Linked DNA regions of Homo sapiens. The protein of the gene in region 1 purifies or fractionates together with the protein of each later gene. This does not show direct contact. Each region holds a gene or a part of one and is shown in the gene's direction. Other genes may lie near its edges.

The links.
Region 2: the proteins of CSGALNACT1 (region 1) and ARFGEF2 purify together in Homo sapiens (affinity purification with mass spectrometry; 3 studies listed by BioGRID and IntAct, with this or other methods). This does not show direct contact.
Region 3: the proteins of CSGALNACT1 (region 1) and TMEM214 purify together in Homo sapiens (affinity purification with mass spectrometry; 3 studies listed by BioGRID and IntAct, with this or other methods). This does not show direct contact.

Annotation. Positions count from the first base shown.
Region 1 is NC_000008.11:19,418,209-19,425,766, reverse strand, and holds part of CSGALNACT1 (chondroitin sulfate N-acetylgalactosaminyltransferase 1), read left to right. Parts: intron 1-5,248; coding exon 5,249-5,427; intron 5,428-7,016; coding exon 7,017-7,111; intron 7,112-7,558. UniProt on the Homo sapiens protein: Transfers 1,4-N-acetylgalactosamine (GalNAc) from UDP-GalNAc to the non-reducing end of glucuronic acid (GlcUA). Required for addition of the first GalNAc to the core tetrasaccharide linker and for elongation of chondroitin chains.
Region 2 is NC_000020.11:48,987,446-48,995,003, forward strand, and holds part of ARFGEF2 (brefeldin A-inhibited guanine nucleotide-exchange protein 2), read left to right. Parts: intron 1-858; coding exon 859-943; intron 944-1,045; coding exon 1,046-1,217; intron 1,218-1,839; coding exon 1,840-1,991; intron 1,992-2,110; coding exon 2,111-2,239; intron 2,240-3,594; coding exon 3,595-3,753; intron 3,754-7,005; coding exon 7,006-7,153; intron 7,154-7,558. UniProt on the Homo sapiens protein: Promotes guanine-nucleotide exchange on ARF1 and ARF3 and to a lower extent on ARF5 and ARF6. Promotes the activation of ARF1/ARF5/ARF6 through replacement of GDP with GTP. Involved in the regulation of Golgi vesicular transport.
Region 3 is NC_000002.12:27,028,408-27,036,257, forward strand, and holds the start of TMEM214 (transmembrane protein 214), read left to right. Parts: upstream 1-4,557; 5' UTR 4,558-4,608; coding exon 4,609-4,759; intron 4,760-5,659; coding exon 5,660-5,859; intron 5,860-6,727; coding exon 6,728-6,878; intron 6,879-7,186; coding exon 7,187-7,321; intron 7,322-7,562; coding exon 7,563-7,645; intron 7,646-7,850. UniProt on the Homo sapiens protein: Critical mediator, in cooperation with CASP4, of endoplasmic reticulum-stress induced apoptosis. Required or the activation of CASP4 following endoplasmic reticulum stress.

The DNA of each region.
Region 1 (7,558 bases):
TGTAAACCAAAAAGAGACTGAGGGAAGGCTCAGTCTATCCGAGTTTTATTTAGCCGAGGTTGAGGATGCACCTAGGAAAATCACAAACCACAGGAGCATCTGCAACCTCTGCTTTTTCCAAAGGGGAAAGAGCTAGGAGGAGGACGAACAAAGGGATGGAGAGCAGGCAGTGAGGTAGATGCTTCCACTCTTGTGAGGCTCTGATTAGCCTCAGTAATTCTCTGTTTTACATGCAAAAAGAGGGAACAGAGGAAAAAATCGATTCTGCATTGCCTCATGCTCAGTAAATCTACATTTTACATCTGAAAAAATGAACACACATAAAAGGAGGGAGTCACGAAAATGAGACTGTGACACGGGGTTGTGAAGTTACAGCTACTGTCAGTGAACAGCAGGAAAATGGTTTTTTGGTTTGTTTGTGTTTTTGAGATGGAATGTAGCTCTGTTGCCCAAGTTAGAGCACAATGGCACGATCTCGGCTCACAGCAACCTCCATTTCCCAGATTCAAGCGATTCTCCTGCCTCAGCCTCCCAAGTAGTGAGGACTACAGGCGCCACCACCACGCCTGGCTAATTCTGTATTTTTAATAGAAATGGGGTTTCACCATGTTGGTCAGTTCAGTCTCGAACTCCTGACCTCAAGTGATCTGCCTGTCTCGGCCTCCCAAAGTGCTAGAATTACAAGCATGAGCCACTGCACCTGGTCAGGAGAACAGTCTTGGTGACTCAGTTCTCAAGCTTAATTCTCCTTTTGGCATGGTGAGTTTGGGGTCCTGAGATTCTATTTTTCTTTCACAATCGGAATCATCTGCTCCTGGCTGGTTACTTGGAAGGGGGGAAGCAGGACAGAGAATAAAGCAGCATGCCTGCCTGGCAACCACTACAGTCTGCATTTGGGGGCTGCAGCCTCATGGCCATGGTGCGGACCTTCCCAAACCACACCATCACACTACGTTGGGCACATCAGTGATTTGAGTTGAAGTGTGTCATTGTGTTTGAATGGTTCTGCTGCCTTTCAATCCACTGTTGAGCAGGGGGCACTCTAGTCTAGTGATGGAGTCCCTGCCCAATGAGCACTGCTTCAAAATGAGGATATGGGGCATTGATAAGTGGCCTGACTACTTGAAGAAGCCAATTCCTCCTCATCTTGTCATATCCTGTTCTAGAGCCCACATGGCCAGTACTGGTAAGTTTCAGATGAGGAGGCTGCCCCACTTCTAGGCCCAGGAGGTTTGGCAAAGACAGGAAGTTGTCTTGATTTTTTTTCATGGTTTTTCCAGTTCAGTCCTCTTTTTTGGCAGAGGGTCTTGGTAATTATCAGAGGCTCTTCCTGATGGCAAGAGAGGAGTTGGAGGGGTTCTTTCAGATCACTGGTTTATTGGAAAAAAGCCTTGGGTTGAGGAATCAGGAAGGAAAATTGTACCATTATTCATCCTCAGACGGACCCCTAGCTGAGCATAATGACCTGGCAGCCACCCTGGGAAACACAGATGGATGACAGAGTTAGCACTCTGGGCCTTCTCCAGTGTCTGTGACTGCCTGATGGTGCTTCCCAAGCCAGCAGTGACTCTGTCCCCACCCTGCCTTCTGTGCACACTCATGTTCAGCTCTCTCATCAGGACCTGGTGAGTGGTCAGGGCTTCAGAGCAGCTCTAACATGGACCCATACTGCCAAGCCAGCAATGTTGCCTTCTGGCCAGTGTTGATCAGGGTGGATGAAAGTCCCAGGCAAAGCTAGATCAGGGCAGAGTCCTGCGTGGGGCAGGGAGAACAGGCAAGCCGAGGTGTCTGGTGCTGTGTGTGTGTGCGCCGGCCCCCATATGGTCCACATGGAAACAGTGCGTGGACAGAGCTGGGTACCACTTCCCAGGGCTTTCTGTGCAGCCTGTGGACACATGAAGTGAATTCAAAATGCATATTCAGATTGGGTAGTGCCATGGATATAACATGCATTGTCTTTTCCTTGTAGAAAGGTTGCATGAAGAGAAAGGAAGCAAATTGCCTTTTGCATTAGGCCATATAAAGTGTTCCCCAGCATCCATTTGCCTGAATTTTCTTTCTCTAGAAGCAACACATCATGGAAGCATAGGGATTTACATTTTAAGGCTTAAAAAAAAAGTTCTTCCAAATTAAGGTCATGTCAGACACTAGGTACCTTAAGTTCTTCCCACCCCTTTTCCCATGACTATGACAGGAAGCCCATCCTGTACCCAATCCTCTGTTGCAGCAGAGGAGAGAACAGCATTTATTAGCAACAGCTCAAGCCAGGGTTAGGGGATTCATGCACAGAATAAACTAGATTAACTTGTGCATTAGGTAAGCATGCACACCACCAAATTACCACTCTTCCCTCTAAATTTGTAGCACTGTCTCTACCGTTCACTCAGCAGTTAATCAATCACTTGTAGACTCGTCATTTCTTTCATGCTGTTTCCTCAGTTTCTAACACTGTCTTGTATTCTTATTTAATTACTCAACATGATTTAACTTTTGTAAATATTTGGCCTATCTATACAAATGGACTGTAGGCTGTTCAAGGGGGAGATTCTTGATGTCGCAGCTCATTTAATGCAGCCTATTAAGAGCCTATGTTCTTCTTCCCTTGGCAAAAGTCACTTGCTGTTGTTCAGGTATTTTTGTAGTTGAACTCTCCTGTAGTAGATCCTAGAAACCCTCCTGGAGAAGGTACCTGAATTATGAGTCAGGTGCAACCTGAGTGAGGAAGGACTTGCTCATACATTGTGTTTGTGCTCTGAAAGTTAGAAGATATCCCTGTATAATGGGGAGGAAGAGGTCCCAAAAGATAGGAACCTGGAAACAGCGAAGAAAGAGAATTGCTACTGGCTGTATATATTAAATACATAGAAAGTTAAAGCAAGATGGACTCCAGGATCAGGTGCCTTTAGATGAACAGGTAAAAATCCAGGCATCTCCCATGGGTAAACCTTTCCTGGAAACTGACCAAACCGGGAAGGGAAAAATGGGTTGACCTGACTTACAGGAGCTGGGGCTGCAGACACCTCTAAGAGACATGAAGGTGCTCGCAGTGACCTCACACCATCTGAATGTCTTTGGAGACGGGAGGATAGCGTGTCCTTGACTGGTGCCATACCTAATACTGAAAAGGTTTTGAGCATAACTTCAATGCAACACACAGAAAATGTGCAATGGGGGCACCCCCCCAGAGAAAAGACTCAAGATAAAGTTCTGAAAGAGGAAGAGAATCCCTGCAAATGTAGAGTGGTGCTGAAGTGAATGCAGGATCATAGGAAAAATAGAGTCTTGTCCAGGTGTGGTATCTCATGCCTGTAATCCTAGCACTTTGGGAGGCCGAGGCAGTAGTACCGCATGAAGCCAAGAGTTGGGCAACAAAGTGAGACTCTGTCTCTATAAAAAATTTTTAAGAATTAGCTGGGCATGGTAGCATGCACTTGTAGTCCCAGCTACTTGGGACTTGGCTGAGAGAAGAGGATTGCTTGAGCCCAGGAGTTTGAGGCTGTAGTGAGCTATGATCATGCCACTGCACTCCAGCCTGGGTGACAGAGCAAGACCCTGTCTCTAAAAGAAAAAGTGTATTATATACAAGTATATATAATGTACATATGTAAAGTAAGTTTTTTTAACCAAAGAAAAATAGCGTCTTAGTGTGTAAAGGGGAATTTGAGCTCTGTAACCACTGGATTTTGTACCTGGAAACAGAGACAAAAGGGGTAGAGTGACTTGCCTCAAATCCATCAGAGGCACAGCTAGGTTTAGAATGATTCATACATTCATACACTCATTCAGAAACATCTGTTGAACACTTATGGGGCCCCAGGCACAGTTCTAGTCCTGGATCCAGGTTTCCAGACTCCTAGACCAGTGCTCTACCCATCATGAGGCCTCCTAACCTGATCCAAATCTGAAAGGCATGTTTGGCATCAAACTCTGACATGGGCTCACTGATCCCTAAGATAAGAATCCAAGCTCACTCCCAGATCCAAAAGAAGAAGATGAGTCAAGGAGGGAGTCGCAGAACTAGTTTTACTGATTCAATTCCAGATACAAATACAACTTAGCATTTTAAAAGTTTATGACTCTATGTTTGCGTTGGCCTTTACCCGAGACGGGTACTTGGAATGCAAACTTTACAAACTGGAAATGAGTTTCTGTACCTTTTGGAAAGAAACAGTAGAGAGAAGTTGGGGCATGGGGATAGGCCAGGTAGCTGGTAGGACGGGGAGTGTGAGAGGAAAGGAAGCCATTAGGAAAAGAAGGGTGTCGTTGACAGGAAAAGGGATTTGCTAGGCTGAAAGAAGACTGAAGGTGGTTCTCTAGTATTATCTGGTAGAAGACAATACCTGTCCCACTGGGCATGGAATGAATTCGTGGAACGTTAGCTTAAGACAGGCCCCATTTCAGAAGGTTCTGCTGTCCCTGGGAAAGAACAACGAATGCGAGAAACATCCTGGCTTCACTGCCTGGGGCCTGGGAATCCTTGCCCATGCTAATCACAGCAATAGCTGATGCTTACAGAGTGCTGTATACTCTTGGCACTGTTTATCTCACTAATAACCCTGTGGGATAGTGAAGGAAGGTGTTACTACACCTATTTAGCAGATGAGGCAACTGAGGTTCAGGAAGATTCATGGGCTGGCCTAGATCACAGAGCTATCTGTAGGAGAGCCAGGCCTGAAACAGTCCTCTTCTAACTGCAAGTTGGTCATTTTTCCTGCCATGCTGTGCTGCTTTACCCGAGGATGCGGAAGGAATCTGGGTTTAAATCTGTTTGGAGGAAAGATTCACATCAAGAACATTTTGCCTGGCTCCTGGATGTGAATGCAGATGAAAAGATGCTAAGTGGGGCCATTGCAATGTGATCTTATTTCCTTGGCTCAGTGGCCTCATTCGGTTGGCTCAGGATGCACGAAGATTTTCCAGGGTTGTGTTTCTAGTCTTACCTGGTTCAAGTTTTCTCCATCACAAAGAATAGTCATTAATGATGACAAGAGTGTTTTCAATACGGGGAAACTGCCAGAGAAACAAGGAAGAAATTAGTGTTAAAACTCCACTAGGTGTTCTTGGTACCTTCGATCCCAGTGAGTATCCTGTGAGTCTGGGCCGTTCTGTAACTTCTTGGGGAGTCCCAGTGCCCTCAGGTTACAAAAGAAATGGGTCAAGATGTGGATGGGCCCTGATTACATATTTTCTCAGGGGATGCTGCCAACATGTGGGAATGTGAGTGACAGTACCTGGTCTTGCCTTTCAGAGCTGCCAACTTCAGGAACTTTACCTTCATCCAGCTGAATGGAGAATTTTCTCGGGGAAAGGGACTTGATGTTGGAGCCCGCTTCTGGAAGGGAAGCAACGTCCTTCTCTTTTTCTGTGATGTGGACATCTACTTCACATCTGAATTCCTCAATACGTGTAGGCTGAATACACAGCCAGGTATGGATCATCTCTCTGTCACGCTCAGGTGGCCCCCAGCCCTCTCGGGCCCATGTGTCGTCCTCTTGATGGGTCAGTCACTCTGATGTCCTGCTTCTGAATCAGCCTGTTTTACTTCAATAGCAAAGAAAAGGAAAACCATCTGTATTAGTCTGTTCTCACGCGGCTAATAAAGACACACCTGAGACTGGGTAATTTATAAAGGAAAGAGGTTTAATGGACTCATAGTTCTGCATGGCTGGGGAGGCCTCACAATCATGGAAGAAGGTGAAGGAGGAGCAAAGGGAAGTCTATCATGGCAGCAGGCGAGACAGTGTGTGTAAGGGAACTCCCATGTACAAAACCATCAAATCTCTTGAGACTTATTTACTATCATGAGTACAGCATGGGAAAACCTGTCCCCATCATTCAGTTACCTCCCACCAGGTCCCTTCCAGGATATCTGGGGATTATGGGAGCTACAATTCAAGATGAGATTTGGGTGGGGACACAGCCAAACCACGTCACCATCTGGTTTGACTTCTCCTTTGAGGCCACATCATGGGCCTGTCAGCCACCATAATTCTGGGACTCTTTTCCCAAGTTCATGTCCATAACCCCTCTTCCGTCTGCAACTGGGAGGTCAGCTTTCATGAACATTCCCAGGAGAAAGCGAGGTGGGGAGGAGGTGGAGCTGGAAAACTGCCAACCCTAAAGAGAAAGGAGTACCTTTGGGCAGTTACCTAGGGTAGAAGAGCTATTCGCACAAAGAACCCACAGTACTAAAATGACTTTCACAGACTCCACTCATAGGCAAGGCTGCTATTGAGCTGATGAACACTGGCACAGCCATGCCAGTTGCTAAAATACAGAAATTCTTTTGTGTAAATTGATAAAGAGCAACCACCCTGGACACTCTAAGTCTAGTCCAACTGCCCAAAGTCACCCTGACCCAAAGTCAACCATTTAAGATGATCCCATGAGCCAGCAAGTAAAGGGTTAATGTTTGGCGGGGCTGGGGCACCAGGACTCTCTTTCACACCCCCTCCCAAGGCGTGATGCCCAGTGCTTGGTCATGGTCTGTCAGTATTCCAAATATCATTCCTGCGCTGGGAGATCAGAAATATTTGCAGATATGACTGTCTGGTCCACTTGGTGCTGCACTTCTAAGACCCATTTTAGAGTTGAGTCAAGGGAAAAGGAAAAGTGGCTGCAGGCCGGGCGCAGTGGCTCATGCCTGTAATCCCAGCACTTTGGGAGGCCGAGGCGGGTGGATCATTTGAGATCAGGAGTTTGAGACCAGCCTGACCAACATGGTGAAACCCCATCTCTACTAAAATAAAAAAATTGGCCGGGTGTGGTGGCGGGCACCTGTAATCTCAGCTACTCAAGAGGCTGAGGCAGTAGAATCACTTGAACCCAGGAGGCAGAGATTGCAATGAGCCAAGATTGTGCCACTCTATTGCAGCCTGGGTGACAGTGAGACTGCCTCTCAAAGAAAAAAAAAGTGGGTGCAAATATCTGGGGTGTTTCAGAGGGCCAAATGTCAAGGAACAAACCTACTACTTGGATCTGTCACTTTAAGTGAATGTTTGTTTTCTGGTTTGTAGGGAAGAAGGTATTTTATCCAGTTCTTTTCAGTCAGTACAATCCTGGCATAATATACGGCCACCATGATGCAGTCCCTCCCTTGGAACAGCAGCTGGTGAGTAATTACCCTGCAGATGGCTCTGTGTGGCTCTGTTTAGTGTCTGTCATTACCAGGGGTACCTGACCATGAGCAAAGGTGAGTAGAAATCTGTGCAATGATTCCCTTAGTAGTTTTTACGTTTGGCAGATGTGCTGGCCTCTGCTCCCGGCGCCTCGTTGATTAAAAGTGCTTGCAATATTTAAAGTGGAAAATAAATGGAAGCAGTACTTTACAGAGAGGTAATTTCACACCTTCATAGTTTCCATCACTGGTTTTTGGAAACTGGTATTGTTGCATTATGGATGCAGTACAGTTTCTCTTGATTTTTGCAAAATCCTACAAGGTAACAAAGGTGAGATTTATGTTCCCATTTGACAGAAATCAGAATGGGGTGGCTCACCCCAGAGAGGGCCAGAGCAATTCCCTGGACCTTGCAGGCAAATAAGGTCTTTGTGAATTTGA
Region 2 (7,558 bases), on another chromosome or scaffold:
AACATAAATATTTTCCATGGTATTTCTACTATTAAATGTTATAATGGGTAATATAGACTATAAATAACAGCTAAACAGCAGTTTTAGTCATCTTTATATCTCATGTCTAGCACAGTACATGGCACAAAATAGATGTTCTCAGGAACAGGACAAGGTGGGGGAGGCACTCAAGCGCTTAGTGTGTGAAATATAGTGAGATGCCCTCTCTCAGGGTCAGCACCAAGTGTAAGGTCTCCTGATGTGCTCACTTGCTTCACCCTAGTCTTGGCCCCAGATGCTTCTTAGAGTCTTTTTAAAAAAAATTATTTGAAATTGCTTTATTCAAAGAAGCCTCAATTTTTATTATTTATTTATTTATTTTTGAGACAGTCTCGCTCTGTCACCCAGGCTGGAGTGCAGTGTCACAATCTCAGCTCACTGCAACCTCCACCTCCCGGGTTCAGGCAATTCTCCTGCCTCAGTCTCCCGAATAGCTGGGATTATGGGCACCCGCTGCCACGCCCAGCTAATTTTTGTATTTTTAGTAGAGATTGGGTTTCACCATGTTGGCCAGGCTGGTCTCGAACTCCTGACCTCAGGTGATCCACCCATCTCGGCCTCCCAAAGTGCTGGGATTACAGGCCTGAGCCACCACGCCCTGCCAAAGAAGCTAAAATTTGATACAGATTGTTAATGAGCTTTTTCTACACTCTGGGTTGCTAAGTCTTGTTCAGTGATGATGAAAGCGTAAAAACTCTTGCCTCATTTGGAATCAAGGGGAGTAGTCGGCTGCTTTTCTCGTGAAGTGTGTCTCTGTTAGCATTGTACCTTCCAAACCGCATCACCATGAATATTGATGTCTCGAATTTTTTTCTCCAGGCAAACTCTGTTTGCTAGTGCTGACACTGCTTATGTCCTAGCGTATTCAATTATTATGCTGACTACAGACTTGCACAGTCCTCAGGTAAAGCACTTTAATGATTTACATGTTGTATTAGCTAAATAAGTGGCTTTACTTGGGCAATTGGATGTTTTTTAAATGGTTTTTAATTTTTTTTAATTACAGGTAAAAAATAAAATGACGAAAGAGCAGTATATTAAAATGAATCGGGGTATCAATGATAGTAAAGATCTGCCAGAAGAGTATCTCTCAAGCATCTATGAAGAGATAGAAGGCAAGAAAATTGCAATGAAAGAAACAAAAGAGCTAACGATTGCAACCAAATCTACTAAGCAGAGTAAGGTCTAATGGCAAATTATTTCTTTTAGTTCTAATTTTTTAGTGTATCAGAATGCATGATTAAATACTCTGGTGATAAATTTAATGTGCATAGCTGGATATCTGAATAGGAAATGTGATTGAATTAATTATTGTGATTATGTTGGGACTTTTATAATGTCACTGTCTTGCTAGATTTCTGATGAGGAGCAAGAAGGAATTTAAAATTAGTAATCTGAGAACTAAATTACTCCCAAAAAGTGTTCTTTAAAACTTTTCTTTAATTCAGATTGTGTCCGCCTTGATTAGAATTCTATTAGTTATGGCCCCTGGGGAGCTGTCAGTTTCACTGTTTGAGAAGCAGCAAAGGGTAGTGGTTTAGAGTGTGGCTCTAGAGCCACACTGCCTTAGATCAAGTCCCAGCTCCTCTACTTAGTAATTGTATGACCCTGGGCAAGTGACTTACCCCCTCTGCCTCATTTTTCCCATCTGTAAAATGGTAATAATAATATTTGTAATGGACTCACGAGATGGTTGGGAGGATTTAGGAGTTAATCATTGTGCATCTTTTGAAACAGTGTATGGCATGTAGCCAGCCCTCAGTGACTGCTAGCCACACCTATCATGCTCTTACTTTACAGATGTAGCTAGTGAAAAGCAGCGGCGGCTGCTGTACAACTTAGAGATGGAGCAAATGGCTAAAACAGCCAAAGCTCTGATGGAGGCTGTGAGCCATGCCAAAGCCCCGTTTACCAGTGCCACTCACCTGGACCATGTCCGGCCAATGTTCAAAGTGAGTATCCTGAGAACTTAGCAAGCATGTGGCTAAGCCTGATTCTGAAGCTGGCCAGCGAGAAGTACTCTTTCCACGCTAAAACTCTGGATGTTATTGAAATCTTCCTTCCATGATAGCTGGTGTGGACGCCACTATTGGCAGCCTACAGCATCGGACTCCAGAACTGTGATGACACTGAAGTGGCCTCCTTGTGTTTGGAAGGCATCCGATGTGCAATCCGAATCGCCTGCATCTTTGGAATGCAGGTAGGTGTAAGTCAGCAACACTCCAGAGATACTGGTGGGTTGTGCTCTTTTAGATTTGGCAAAACTTAGAAATTATCAGAAATTTTCAGTTAATCAAGACTCTTAGCAAGCTACTTACTTATGCCTACTGACAAGAAATCCGTAGCTTTGTGATGACAGCTCGTTAGGGGCAAAAATGGAGATACGGATTAAAACTGTCTTTAAGAATGGGTAGGCTGGGCACAGTGGCTCACGCCTGTAATCCCAGCACTTTGGGAGGCCAAGGCAGGCAGATCACCTGAAGTTGGGAGTTCGAGACCAGCCTAACCAACATGGAGAAACCCCATCTCTACTAAAAATATAAAATTAGCCGGGTGTGGTGGTACATGCCTATAATCCCAGCTACTCGGGAGGCTGAGGCAGGAGACCGGCTTGAACCCAGGAGGTGGAGGTTGCGGTGAGCCGAGATCGCGCCATTTTACTCCAGCCTGGGTGACAAGAACGAAACTCCATCTCAAAGAAAATAATAATAATAATAATAGGTAGGGTCCAAGCTTCTTGACTGGATTTGACAAAGCAGACTTCGTGTTCATCTGCCTAACTTGCCTGCTTTGGTGCTTAAAAATACTATTTCCTTTTTAACATCAGTTTTTATTATAATTTCGCATATTTCCAACTCTTCCCTGGAGAAACAAGTAGTTCAATGCAATATGAATATGTCTGTAAACCTTTGAAACTTGAAAAGTTCAAGCAAATAAATGAAATGTAATTCTGAAACTGTTACGAAATTAGGAGGTTGACAATCCCATGCATCACTTTGTAAGTCAGAAGTTGCACCCCATTTATTTTTAAAAACTCAATCTTCTGTTCCTATTCATTTTACAGTTAGACATTTTCTTTTATACCAAGACCACAAGCTTTGACGTTAGACCATCTAGGTTTCAAGACCCCACTCTGCCACCTCTCCAACCATGTGACATTGGCTCAGCTAAAGTCTCTCTGAGACACCAATTCATTTCCTCATTTGTAAACTTGAGAAAACAGACCTGCCTGGCAGAATTGTTGCAGATGTCAATTTGTGTGACAGTCTTAGTATTCAACAGACATAGTGGAACATGGGACAGGTGAGTTTGACTGAAGTCAATTAGAAAGGAGAGAGCTGCTTCTCAAACATGTGGCAGTGCATAGATACCTCTGCAAGATGTTCCAAAAGCAAGAGGGCATTAGCATGGAATAACTGTTGTGCTAATGTGCAGAAAGCCAGTCAATGTGCATACAAAAAGTATCAGAGAAGCCCAGTGTGCCAGCCCTGCAGATGTGAGAATGGCCACACTAAGGTTGGAGTCACAGTGTTCTCTCTTGGGTTTCTGTTACAGCTGGAACGAGATGCCTATGTTCAGGCTCTTGCTCGCTTCTCCCTACTCACAGCCAGCTCCAGCATCACAGAAATGAAGCAGAAAAACATCGACACCATTAAGACGCTTATCACAGTGGCTCACACCGATGGCAACTACCTTGGGAATTCCTGGCATGAGGTACGTGTCTCTTTGAATTGCCTTTTCTCAGTTAGGATGACTCCTGGCTTCCTTTTATTCATTGTTGATCTCATTTGGTCAGTTCTGTTTTTCTTGAAGTCAAATCACTGTACCTCATGTATCTGGAAGTCACCCTCTCTGGGGCTGTGAAAGGCGGGGGCGAGTTCAGGCGCACCAGCTCACAGTGAGCACCCTTGCACCCAGCAGCCAGTGTCCCCCATGAAGTGTACTTCTGTTGTTGCAACTTTCTTTCCATATTAGTGCCATTTTTTTTTTTTTTTTTAGTCCTTATGTACCTCTTGGGAGCTTGGGAGCTCCTGTGATCAATGTGTAATTTTAAGACAAAGCCAGGAGCCTGATTAGAAATGGTTGATAGTCACAATGAGCTGTTAGGGAGAGTGCCAGTGAATTCACATGTTTTTAAAACAGTATTCTAAGATTCTCACCCAAGGATATAGTTACTTATGTGTACAACAATGTATTTAAAAGGATATTTGTTGCAGTTTTAGTTGTTCTAGGGAAAAGTTTGGGTTAAAAAGAGCTAGATGTCCCAACAATATAAGAGATTGCTACTTTTTTTAAAAAGTATGGTACAGCATTTTTTAGAATGTTATGTGGCCATTTAAAATAATGTTGTGGAAAAAAAAGACAGGCAGATAGTATGTGCTCTCTGATGGAAGTACACAATACTACCTAAGAAATGTTCTAGCCCCAACTCAAATCTGAATTGATTCAAGCCTATATTGCCAGTTTACAGGAAATACAGTGGACAGAGAAGCATGTTAGATATGAGGGTGCAGCTTGGAAATTCTAGGTGTGACAGACCTGCAGAGCAGATGACCAGGTTTTTCAGCAAAAAAATTGCAAGAAAAATAAGGGAGGAGGGTTACCTATGAATTAAAAGAGATTTCAGAAAAGAAGATAAAAGATGATTTTAAAGACTATTGTGGGAAAATGGTCACAGTAAAATTACAAGTTGTTATAAGAGATTGTGAGGCATTGTCTCTCGTGGCAAAATACACAGAGAATGCAGTTTGAAAGGATAGACCAAAGCATTAACATTCTGTCTGAGAAATAGAATTATGGAAACTGTTTTATTCTTTTTTTTCTTAATTTCTAATTTTTTCTGCCATCTACATGTATTACTTTTTTGTTTAGAGAGAAAACTGTGAAAGAATAGAGATGAGGCTGTGGAGAATGTAAAGGACAGTTTGACATAGAAAATTGCTGTCATCCTTCTTCCCCATGTGGACCACATGGCTCAGATTCAGAGTAAAGGCTCTAGAGCCTGGCAACTGGGGTCTGATTTGGGGCTCCACCTCTTCCTGCCTGGATGGCACAGGCAGGTTACTTAGTCACCGAGTCCCACCTTCTTCATCTCTACAATCTTCACAGGGTGGTTATGAAAATGAAGAGGGCTTGGGACTGTATTTGGCAAGTAATAAGAACTCAATAGTGTTACCTGCTGTCATCTCCGTGGCGTATGGCTTTGCTCCTCTTCACCAGCCTTTCCTCTCTCTGTCACAACTCTGAGTAGTCCATGTTAGAAATAACTGAGTTATGGCTGGGCACAGTGGCTCACACCTGTAATCCCAGAACTTTTGGAGGTTGAGGCAGAAGGATGGCTTGAGGCCAGGAGTTCCAGACCAGCCTGGGCAACATAGCAAGACCCCATATCTTTAAAAAAAAATTATTTTTTTAATTAGCTAGGCATGGTGGTTCATGCCTGTAGTCCCAGCTACTCAGGAGGCTGAGGCAGCAGGATTGCTTGAGCCCAGGAGTTCAAGGCTGTAGTGAGCCTTGATTGCACCACTGTGCTGCAGCCTGGGCAACAGAGCAAGACCTCATCTCTAAAATAAAAAAATATATATTTTGAATTGTGTGCTTTTTAAAATCATTTCCTGCCTTCTAAGGAGCCATAATACGTAGAGAATCAATGAATAGTTGCTTTTTCTTCTAAAACATTTTTTTAGCCTGGGAGGTATTATCAATATGAGGTTCCTGCTGCCAGCCAAGTATATGGCAGAATCTAGAAATGTTAAAAATTAATTAGCTACCTCTGCGGTTGTCAGAAGCCCTGAGAAATCAGCTTGGAACTAATAAGCCCTTGACCTTTCAGTATTGGTGACGTACTTGAGATTCCAGCTGTCCCCAGCTTCTGCAAAAGGGAGGACATTACTAGCTTACTAATAATAATTTAATAGTGTGTGAAGAAATCAGGGGATGATTCTCTTTGGTGGAATTAAGTCTATTTCTCAGTCAAGAAGAAAGCAATTTATAAGTAAAGATACTCGGCAGTGCTCAGTGGTATAGTGGAGTCCTGGACTCTGGGACTGAGTTGTAAGGTCAGCGTAAAAAGCAACACTGAAGTTCAGTCAGAAGTTCCCATGAAAATTCCTTAGGGTTTCCCTGGAGGTCTGTGTGCCATTCCTTGGTAAGTTTCATGTAGCCAGTGTTTCCTCTGACAGAAGTTGGGACCAGTTTCTGTTTCTACAGCTGAGCTTCAGGTAGGAGGGCCCGTGTGCAGATCTGCATTCTCAAGCACCAGAGGCACCCCTCAGGACCAGGAGATCCAGCCTCATCTCCCACTGCATGCCTGATGTAGAGCATATTCTCATTCCTTCAGTTAAACCAATTAACGATTGCCAACAACTTTAAGTGCCAGGGACTTAAGTGTTCAGCAGTGAACAAGACAGAGTTAATGCCCTCTTGGCACCTAAGGCAGGAAACAAACAAATAGATATATGGTATAATGCCAAAAAGTGGTAAGCACTAAGAAAAAAAAAGTATGAGCAGGACATGGTAATGGGAAGGTACGATCTCACAAGAAAGATCTCTTTGAGAGGGACACACATGTCTGAGCTGGGAATTGAAGGAGTGAGCCATGGGGAGACAACATTCCAGGCATAAGGAACAGTGAGTGCCAAGGCCCTGAGGTGGGACAAGAGATGACAAGTTAAAGGAGCAACAGTGAGGCCAATGAGGCTGGTGTCTTGTCGTCTCACGAGGAGGGTGGAAAAAGGAGGTGGGGGTGACTAAATGATGTGCCTATTAAGTGACATGGTGGGAGGAATCCGCCGCCCCAGTCAAATGCTTTTTCTCTCTTTATTGAGAGCTTACTAAATTTGCATAAACATCTATATGGCATAACTCCATTGAACCAACTTTTTTTTAATGACTAACTTAAGATTACAGTGCCCTTTTTCTAGCTGTAAGGTAGGAACTCATTTCTTCATGCCTTCTTTCTCTTAGATCTTGAAATGCATCAGCCAGCTGGAGCTCGCTCAGCTGATAGGAACCGGTGTGAAGACGCGCTACCTGTCTGGATCTGGGCGTGAAAGAGAAGGGAGCCTGAAGGGCCACACATTGGCAGGAGAAGAGTTCATGGGCCTTGGCCTCGGTAAGACACCAGGCCCCACAGCTAACAGTCACGGATTTGCAAGCTAACGGGGATGAAACCCTTCTTGTCTCATCAGGACTGTCCTGTAAACCGTCTCTTCCTTTTGTGCCATCTGACAGTGTTCATGAATGCAAGTGGACGTGCTGCTTTGGCCTCTTAATTGTGATTAAACTGTTGAGTAAAATGTCTATTTTACCAAAGTCAGTAGGGTGCATTACTTTTCTTTCTATACCTATCACTATATTGGGGAGAAAAACCATTTGCTTTAAAATGTTCAGATCTCTAGTGCCTGACATTAGAGGGGTGTGTATTTGTGTCTCTAGGTTTTAAAGGGTAGGTTCAACATTTCTTCCATCTTTATTGGGGGGCTTTTATTAAACAGTATTCTTATGCAAGTAGAATTAT
Region 3 (7,850 bases), on another chromosome or scaffold:
GAACAGTGCCTCCCCCAATGTCCACATCACAATCCCCAGAAGCTGTGAATATGTGGGTTACATGGCAAAAGGGAATTAAGCTGCCTGTGGGCCAGGTGCGGTGGCTCACGCCTGTAATCCCAGCACTTTTGGAGGCCAAAGCGGGAGGATCACTTGAGCCCAGGAGTTCAAGACTTCCCTGAGCAACATAGGGAAACACCATCTCTACAAAAAATAAAATTTGAAGGGCGTTGTGGCACGTGCCTGTAGTCCCAGCTACTCAGGAGGCTGAAGCAGAAGGATCACTTGAGCCCAGTTGTTGTTAAGGCTGCAGTGAGCCATGATTGCTCCACTGTACCCCAGCCTGGGCAACAGACTGAAACCCTGTCTCAAAAAAAAAAAAAAAAGAAAAAAAAGTTGCAGATGGAATTCAGGAAGTTAATCTGCTGACCTTAAAATAGGGAGAGTGTCCTGGTTTATCCAGGTGGGTCCAATGTCATCGCAAACGTTTATAAGAGTGGAAGCAGGAGGCAGAAAGGGTCAGAGTGGGCAGGGTGTGGTGGCTCATGTCTGTAATCCCACCATTTTGGGAGGCCAAGGCAGGAGGATCACTTGAGCGCAGGAGTTGGAGACTAGCCTGGACAACAGCGAGACCCCATCTTTACAAAAAATAGAAAAATTAGCCGAGCATGGTACTACATGCCTGTAGTCCCAGCTACTTGGGAGGCTGAGATGGAAGGATCATTTGAGCCCTGGAGGTCAAGGGTGCAGTGAGCCATAATCATGTCACTGCACTTCAGCCTGGGCAACAGAGCAAGATCCTGTCTCAGAAAAATAAAAGAAGAGGTCAAAGTGAAACAATGTGAGAGTGACTCACCCACTGTTGTTGGCTTTGAAGACAGAAGGGAGCCATGAACTCAGGAATGCAGGTGGCCTCTAGAAGCTGGGCAAGGCAAGGAAATGGATGCTCCCCCAAAGCCTCCAGAAAGGAACCCAGCCCTGCTGACACCTCGATTCTAGCCCAGGGAGACCTGAGTTAGACTCCTGCCCTCCAGAACTGGAAGATAACGCCCTTGTTTTAAGCCACTAAGTTTGTGGCAATTTGTTTTAGCAGCAATAGAAACGTAGTACAGTGGGTAAAACAGTGCTTCGGTGAGCTCACCCTTCTGCTTGCTCCCACACTAGACACCCATGTCCTCCTTGACCCAACATCTTTTGGGTCTTCAAACCCCACGGCGGGGCCTACCCAAGCCCACCTCCGTGGCTAGTGTCTAAGGCTGCTCTTCAAACACCCAGAACTTAAGGATGTAAAGCCACTCCCTTCTCCCCACCTCTTCCTGGTACCTCATACTAAGTGCTTCTTTCCTCTGGAACACTAAGATGGTGAACTGTAATTTTCTGTTTATACATTTGTCCCCCACACAGACTTCAAGTTCCTTACAAGCAAGTGAGCTATATCTTCCAGCTCCACCTAGCACAGGGCCTGACACAGAGAAGGTGCTTAGAAAAGGTTGCTGGATAAGTAAATGCATGATTTATATGTCCTAGATGCCAAGTTAGAACTGGTAACTTACTAGACTATTCCAATGAAAGATAGAGTCCCTCTCCCACCCTTCTGTGTGTCTCCACCATGGGGCAGCCCCCTCATTTGCCTCAATGGAAAGCCAGTTCTGTTTCTCTTCCAAAAACATGGTCTCTTCTGTGATCATACATGTGACACAGGAGGGGTCAAACAAAGAGAAGATATTGTTGTTGGTCTCCTGAGTACACCTAAACCAATGATCTGCAAAATGAATTGATTAATGATCAGTTCAAATATGGTCCTTGGCAAAGGCACTGTATCTCAGAGCTACCGGATGCAAAGTCAGCCATGGTCAGGCCTAAGGGGGCTGGAGGACAGGTAGAAGGAGGCAGCAAGATATGCTCATCTCCCACCCCCTGCCTTCCCCTACCAACACTTCACACAGCCACATTTACCCTTCCAAAAGAGTGGATTATGCCACCCTCTCACTGGTCTCCCAGGGCCTGAAGGATAAAGTCCAGATTTGGCAGGCAAGTTCCTTGGCATATGGGCTCAGATCCCTTTCCAAACTCATAAGAGGCTATTGTTGCATTGCTATAAAGAAACATCTAGACTGGGTAATTTATAAGAAAAGAAGTTTAATTGGCTCACAGTTCTGCAGACTGTATAGGAAGCATAATGCTGACATCTGCTTCTAGGGAAGCCTCAGGAAGCTTACAATCATGGCGGAAGGCAAAGGGGGAGCAGGCACATCACATGGTAAAAGCAGGAGCGAGCAAGCGAGCGAGAGAGAGAGGTGGTGGGGAGGTGCCACACACTTTTAAATGACCAGATCTCATGAGAACTGGGATCCACCATGAGGGATCCACCACCATGATCCAAACACTTCCCACCAGGCCCAACTGCCAGCGCTGGGGATTACAATTCAACATGAGACTTGGGCAGGGACAAAAATCCAAACTATATCAAACCTCATCACCTCCAAAGTCCCATCAAGCACTGTCCCATTGAACTGCTTCCAGTTTACCACCCTCTAGGCCTTTGTTTTACATCAACAGATCCACACAACTGGCATTTTCTCTCCACCCACCCTAACCCTCAGCCAGTGAACATTCAATTTTGTTTTTTGTTGTTGTTGTTGTTTTGGGTTTTTTGAGACGGAGTTTAGCTCTTGTTGCCCAGGTTGGAGTGCAGTGGCACAATCTCGGCTCACTGCAACCTCCGCCTCCAAGGTTCAAGCGATTCTCCTGCCTCAGCCTCCCAAGTAGCTGAGATTATAGGCCTGCGCCATCATACCTGGCTACTTTTTTGTATTTAGTAGAGATGGGGTTTCACCATGTTGGCCTGACTGGTTTCGAACTCCTGACCTCAGGTGATACCCACCTCGGCCTCCCGAAGTGCTGGGATTACAGGCGTGAGCCACGGCGCCCGGGGAACCAATGAAAATGCTATTTCTCAGAACCTATCTCAGCTGCCGTCTCCTTCGGGAAGCTAAACTCCTTCCTAAGGAATGCATCGCTCCCTCAGCTGTTCATCCTGTAGGAATTTGGACTCTCTTAGTTCTTATCATAATACCTCAGTATGGCAGGTAGGAATCTCATCCTCACACACAGTTGTACATGAAATAGCACATTTCCTTAATTGTGATAAGTCACTTTGATTTTATCTTCCCTCATTCTCCTCTGCTGGCATGCTTCAAGGTTCTGAAGGCTCCCAGGATACTAACACCCTCCACGTGGATGTCTGAGCAGGAACCTGTCTGCAGATGCCTCAAGTCTGGGGCTCTCCATCGCTTCCCTGACACATCTGGAACTTGGGATTGACTCTTATGGTGGGAGGCAGAGCCTGTTCTTTCTCATTGCCTGGAAGGGGAAACCCGGCCCTGGCTGTCCCAGACCCCCAGACTTTTCTCAGCCTCCCATGAGAAGAACTCAGAGGCCAGGAGCGGTGGCTCACTCCTGTAATCCCAGCACTTTGGGAGGCTGAAGAGGGTGGATCACTGAGCCCAGGAGTTTGAGATCAGCCTGGGCAACACAGCAAAACCCAGTCTCTACAAAAAATACCAAAGATTAGCCGGGGGTGGTGGTGGGTCAGGTGATCCGTGGTGGGGGATCACCTGAGCCCTAGAAGTTGAGGCTGCAGTGAGTCGTGATCGCGCCACTGAACTCCAGCCTGGGCGACAAAGCAAGATCCTGTCTCAAAAAAAAAAAAAAAAATTATTCTCCATTCTCCACCTCCTACCCCAGCTCCCCAACACTCTGCCCTTTCCTCAAGCCCCCATCCTCTTCCTTGTTCTTTGGCAATAGATTTGTATAGCCCATTAAACCCGAGGTTTAATCACTAGCAACAGTAAAGCCAGCACTTTCCTAGAAGGAAGGAAGCATTTAATCTTCAATCTCTCCCTAGATATGAGGAGCACTACTTCCCTTCCATCCTTCCAGCTCTACGAGAAAGGAAAGAAAAACAGTGGCCGGGCGCCGTGGCTCACGCCTGTAATCCCAGCACTTTGGGAGGCTGAGGGGTGGGGGTGGGGTGGGTCACTTTAGGTCAGGAGTTCGAGACCAGCCTAGCCAACATGGCGAAACCCCGTCTCTACTAAAAATACAAAAATTAGCTGGGCTTGGCAGCGGGAGCCTGTAGTCCCTGCTACTCGGGACGCTGAGGCACGAGAGTCGCTTGAACCTGGGTGGCGGAAGTTACAGTGAGCTGAGATCGCGCTACTGCACTCCAGTCTGGGCGACAGAGCGCGGCCCTGGCAATCAATCAATCAATTGATCAATAAAGGAAAGAAAAACAGAAACAGTTCTACCAAGTCTCTCAATGCCGTGGCCTTCACATCGACGCTCAATGAACGTTCTCAGAAGGGAATCTCCTCTCCTCCCGGCCTCTTCGCCTGGGCGGGGGCCGCAGGCTGCCGCGGAAGCCTCTTCCCGATGCTCTTCGCTCAGGAGAGCCCGGCCCAGGAGAGGGACTACAAGTCCCAGGCTGCCTTGCGGCGGGCGCCGGGCGCCGGGCGCGCGGTCCTGCGAGGAGACGTGGCAGAGTGCGGCGCGCTCGCGCCGGACCGGAAAGCCGGGGAAGTGGCCGAGGAGGGAGGGCTGCGAGCCATGGCGACCAAGACGGCGGGCGTGGGGCGGTGGGAGGTAGTGAAGAAGGGTCGGCGGCCTGGGGTCGGCGCCGGCGCCGGCGGCCGAGGAGGCGGCAGGAACCGCAGGGCGCTCGGGGAAGCAAACGGAGTGTGGAAATACGACCTGACCCGTGAGTACCCGCCCTGCCCCGCCGCCTACCCCAGGCCTGTCCGGCAGGGTCGCAGCGAGCGGCTCCCAGAACCTGGGCGCGAGCTCGCAGGCACATCCCCGAGCGCCACGCTTGCGTTGTCTCTTTGGAGCCTCACGGGAGGCAGACAGCTCCAGGGAAGGTTGCGGTCCTCACCTCCCAGATGAGTAAACTGAGGCCCAGTGAAGTTGGATACCTTGGCCAGGGTCATGTGTCAGAGGGGCTAGGATTCCGGTCCTCAGACTCTCAGTTCACTGCACACACTCTCCCAGCTGCCCAGGGCCCTAGCTGGTCTCTCTGGGCAGGTGTCTGAGCTTTGAAGAGGTACTGTGGATCATTATACACGGTGCCCCCTCTTTAAGTAACCAGCAGGTCATGGAGGAAGGGACAGGAGGCCCAGCAGTGGGAGAAATGACCGCCACACACTCAACACTCACCAGGAATTATAAGTGACACCTGGTTCTTCCACTGAGGAGTGGAGAAAGATTGCCACTTGTTGATTATAGAGTTGTCATGTCGGAACCAAGAGGCGTTAGGGTAGGACCAAGATGGAAAAAGCTTGTCTTCCCAGACTAGTAGCCACTCACTGAATAAGGCAAACCTCTATATCCAACCTCTCTGCTTGTTCCTACATACTCTGATTTGTCTAATGAAGAACTGCCCCATCTTTATGAAAGAGCCCATAGACTCAAGAGCTGTAATGAAAGAAGCTACCAGGAGAACAGCCTGCCCTGCTCCTTAAGCAGTCCAAGAGGAAGGGGCTTTGAGACAGGCTCTTCCCTGGAGATGAATTAGGTGGCAGTGTGGGGAAAGGGACCACTGATAGGTGAGGCCTTGGGGACTCAAGGGTGGCCTGCCTTTCTCTACCTATCTTCACCCCAGCTGCAATCCAGACCACAAGCACCCTTTATGAGCGGGGCTTTGAGAATATCATGAAGCGGCAGAATAAGGAGCAGGTCCCACCCCCTGCTGTGGAACCTAAGAAACCAGGGAACAAGAAGCAGCCAAAGAAGGTGGCAACTCCTCCCAACCAAAACCAGAAGCAGGGCCGCTTCCGCAGCCTGGAGGAAGCACTGAAAGCTGTGAGTGTGCCTAGACATGAGACGCAGAAAGAATGGGGGCTTGAGATTTAGAGAAGATGAGAGGAGGGGGAGGTGGATGGGCAGCTGAGATCCTATGGGATTTGAAACACTTTAAGGGTTGAGAGGAGTTCAGGAAAAGATGGAAACCCCAGGGGAACAGAATGCCTGCACTTAGAATAGAAAGGAAATGGAAAATTTATAGGGAAACATGGATTGGTAAGAGGAAAGCCTTGAAGACCCAGGAACACCAGGGAGGAGATGGAGAAACTGGTTATGATTCTCTGTCCTATGGAAATACTGATCTTTCATTTTCTGTCTTGTCCTCTGTTTTCCTCTTTTTTTTTTTTTTTTTTTGAGTTAGAGTCTCCCTCTGTCGCCCAGGCTGGTGTGCAGTGGTGTGATCTCAGCTCACTGCAACCTCTGTCTCCTGCCTCAGCCTCCCAAGCAGCTGGGATTACAGGCGTCTGCCACCACGCCTGGCTAATTTTTGTATTTTTAGTAGAGATGGGGTTTCACTACGTTGGCCAGGCTGGTCTTGAACTCCTGACCTCAGGTGATCCGCCCACCTTGGCCTCCCAAAGTGCTGGGATTACAGGCGTGAGCCACCGCGCCTGGCCCTCTGTTTTCCTCTTGAACATGTGGAGGGCCTGAGAGGATAGGGCCTGAGATCAGCATTTTCAGCTGTCCTGTTCCATTCTTAAAGATGTAGGTACAGCAGAATTGCAGCATTCCATGTTCTTATGCTTAAAAATGGAATCCCTTCTTCCTACTGCCACCTAGTTCAACCATTTTCCCACCCCTACCCCATTTCTTTACTCCCTCACTCACAACTCGCCATGGTGGGGGGTTGGGGGATTGTCCCTGGCAGCTGGATGTGGCAGACCTGCAGAAGGAACTGGACAAGAGCCAGAGTGTGTTCTCTGGAAACCCATCCATATGGTTGAAGGACCTGGCCAGCTATCTCAACTACAAGCTACAAGCTCCTCTAAGTGAACCCACGCTGAGCCAGCATACTCATGGTAAGTCCTTCCAGCTTCCTCAAGCTCAGACAAGTTCAAATAAATTCAAAAAGGGTGGTATAACAGATCCCAGTGCCCCACACTGTCCTGATTTCCATGGGTGATTTGGGCTGGTCTCAAATCATCGTGACTGTGAATGTTTCTGGGCCTCATTCTGTGATCCTCCCTCTGGGCCTCCTCAGAGGAAGGATCCCAGCCTCAGTGCAGGGGCCTTTGCCTCCACTCACCATTCCCAGGGAGAGCACCACAGTTCTCAGAGCTGATGGGTGTCTGGTCCTAGCACTCACATTGAGGCCTATGGGCCTTAGATTATCCCTACAGCCTGGTGAGCCGGGAGCTACGTGGGATCATCCGAGGGCTGCTGGCGAAGGCAGCAGGGTCTCTGGAGCTCTTTTTTGACCACTGTCTGTTCACCATGTTGCAAGAGCTGGATAAGACACCAGGTGAAAGGGGCACGGGAGGGATGACCATCTTGGGAGCCTCCTCCTTTTTTTCCTGCTTCCAGTACCACTCAGTGGTTCTGTTTCCAGCAGAGAAATGTGCTAACCTTAACACTTTTTGGAAAGTGTGGAGGAAGTTAGGAGTCAGTGGACCTGGGGCCTGGGCTCACCGCTGACAAATGGGAGATTTCAGGTTTGGGATGCCAAATAATGTGAGTAGGTGTGAGAATGTGTATCTCTCCAGGGGAGTCACTACATGGTTACCGCATCTGTATCCAGGCCATCCTGCAAGACAAGCCCAAGATTGCCACGGCAAACCTAGGCAAGGTGAGCTCTCAGTGATGGTGGGGATGCTAGGAAGCTAGGACTGGGGAGGCTGGGCAGAATCTATGTTGTTGGACTCAGGTTTGGGATAGTGGAAGACCTGTAAGCCTAGTAATAATGGGTAACACTATTAGCACCTATCCTGTGTGTGTGCTCTGGAAACATAGGAGCAAGGTACTGCTATTATTTCCCATTTTTATAGATGAAA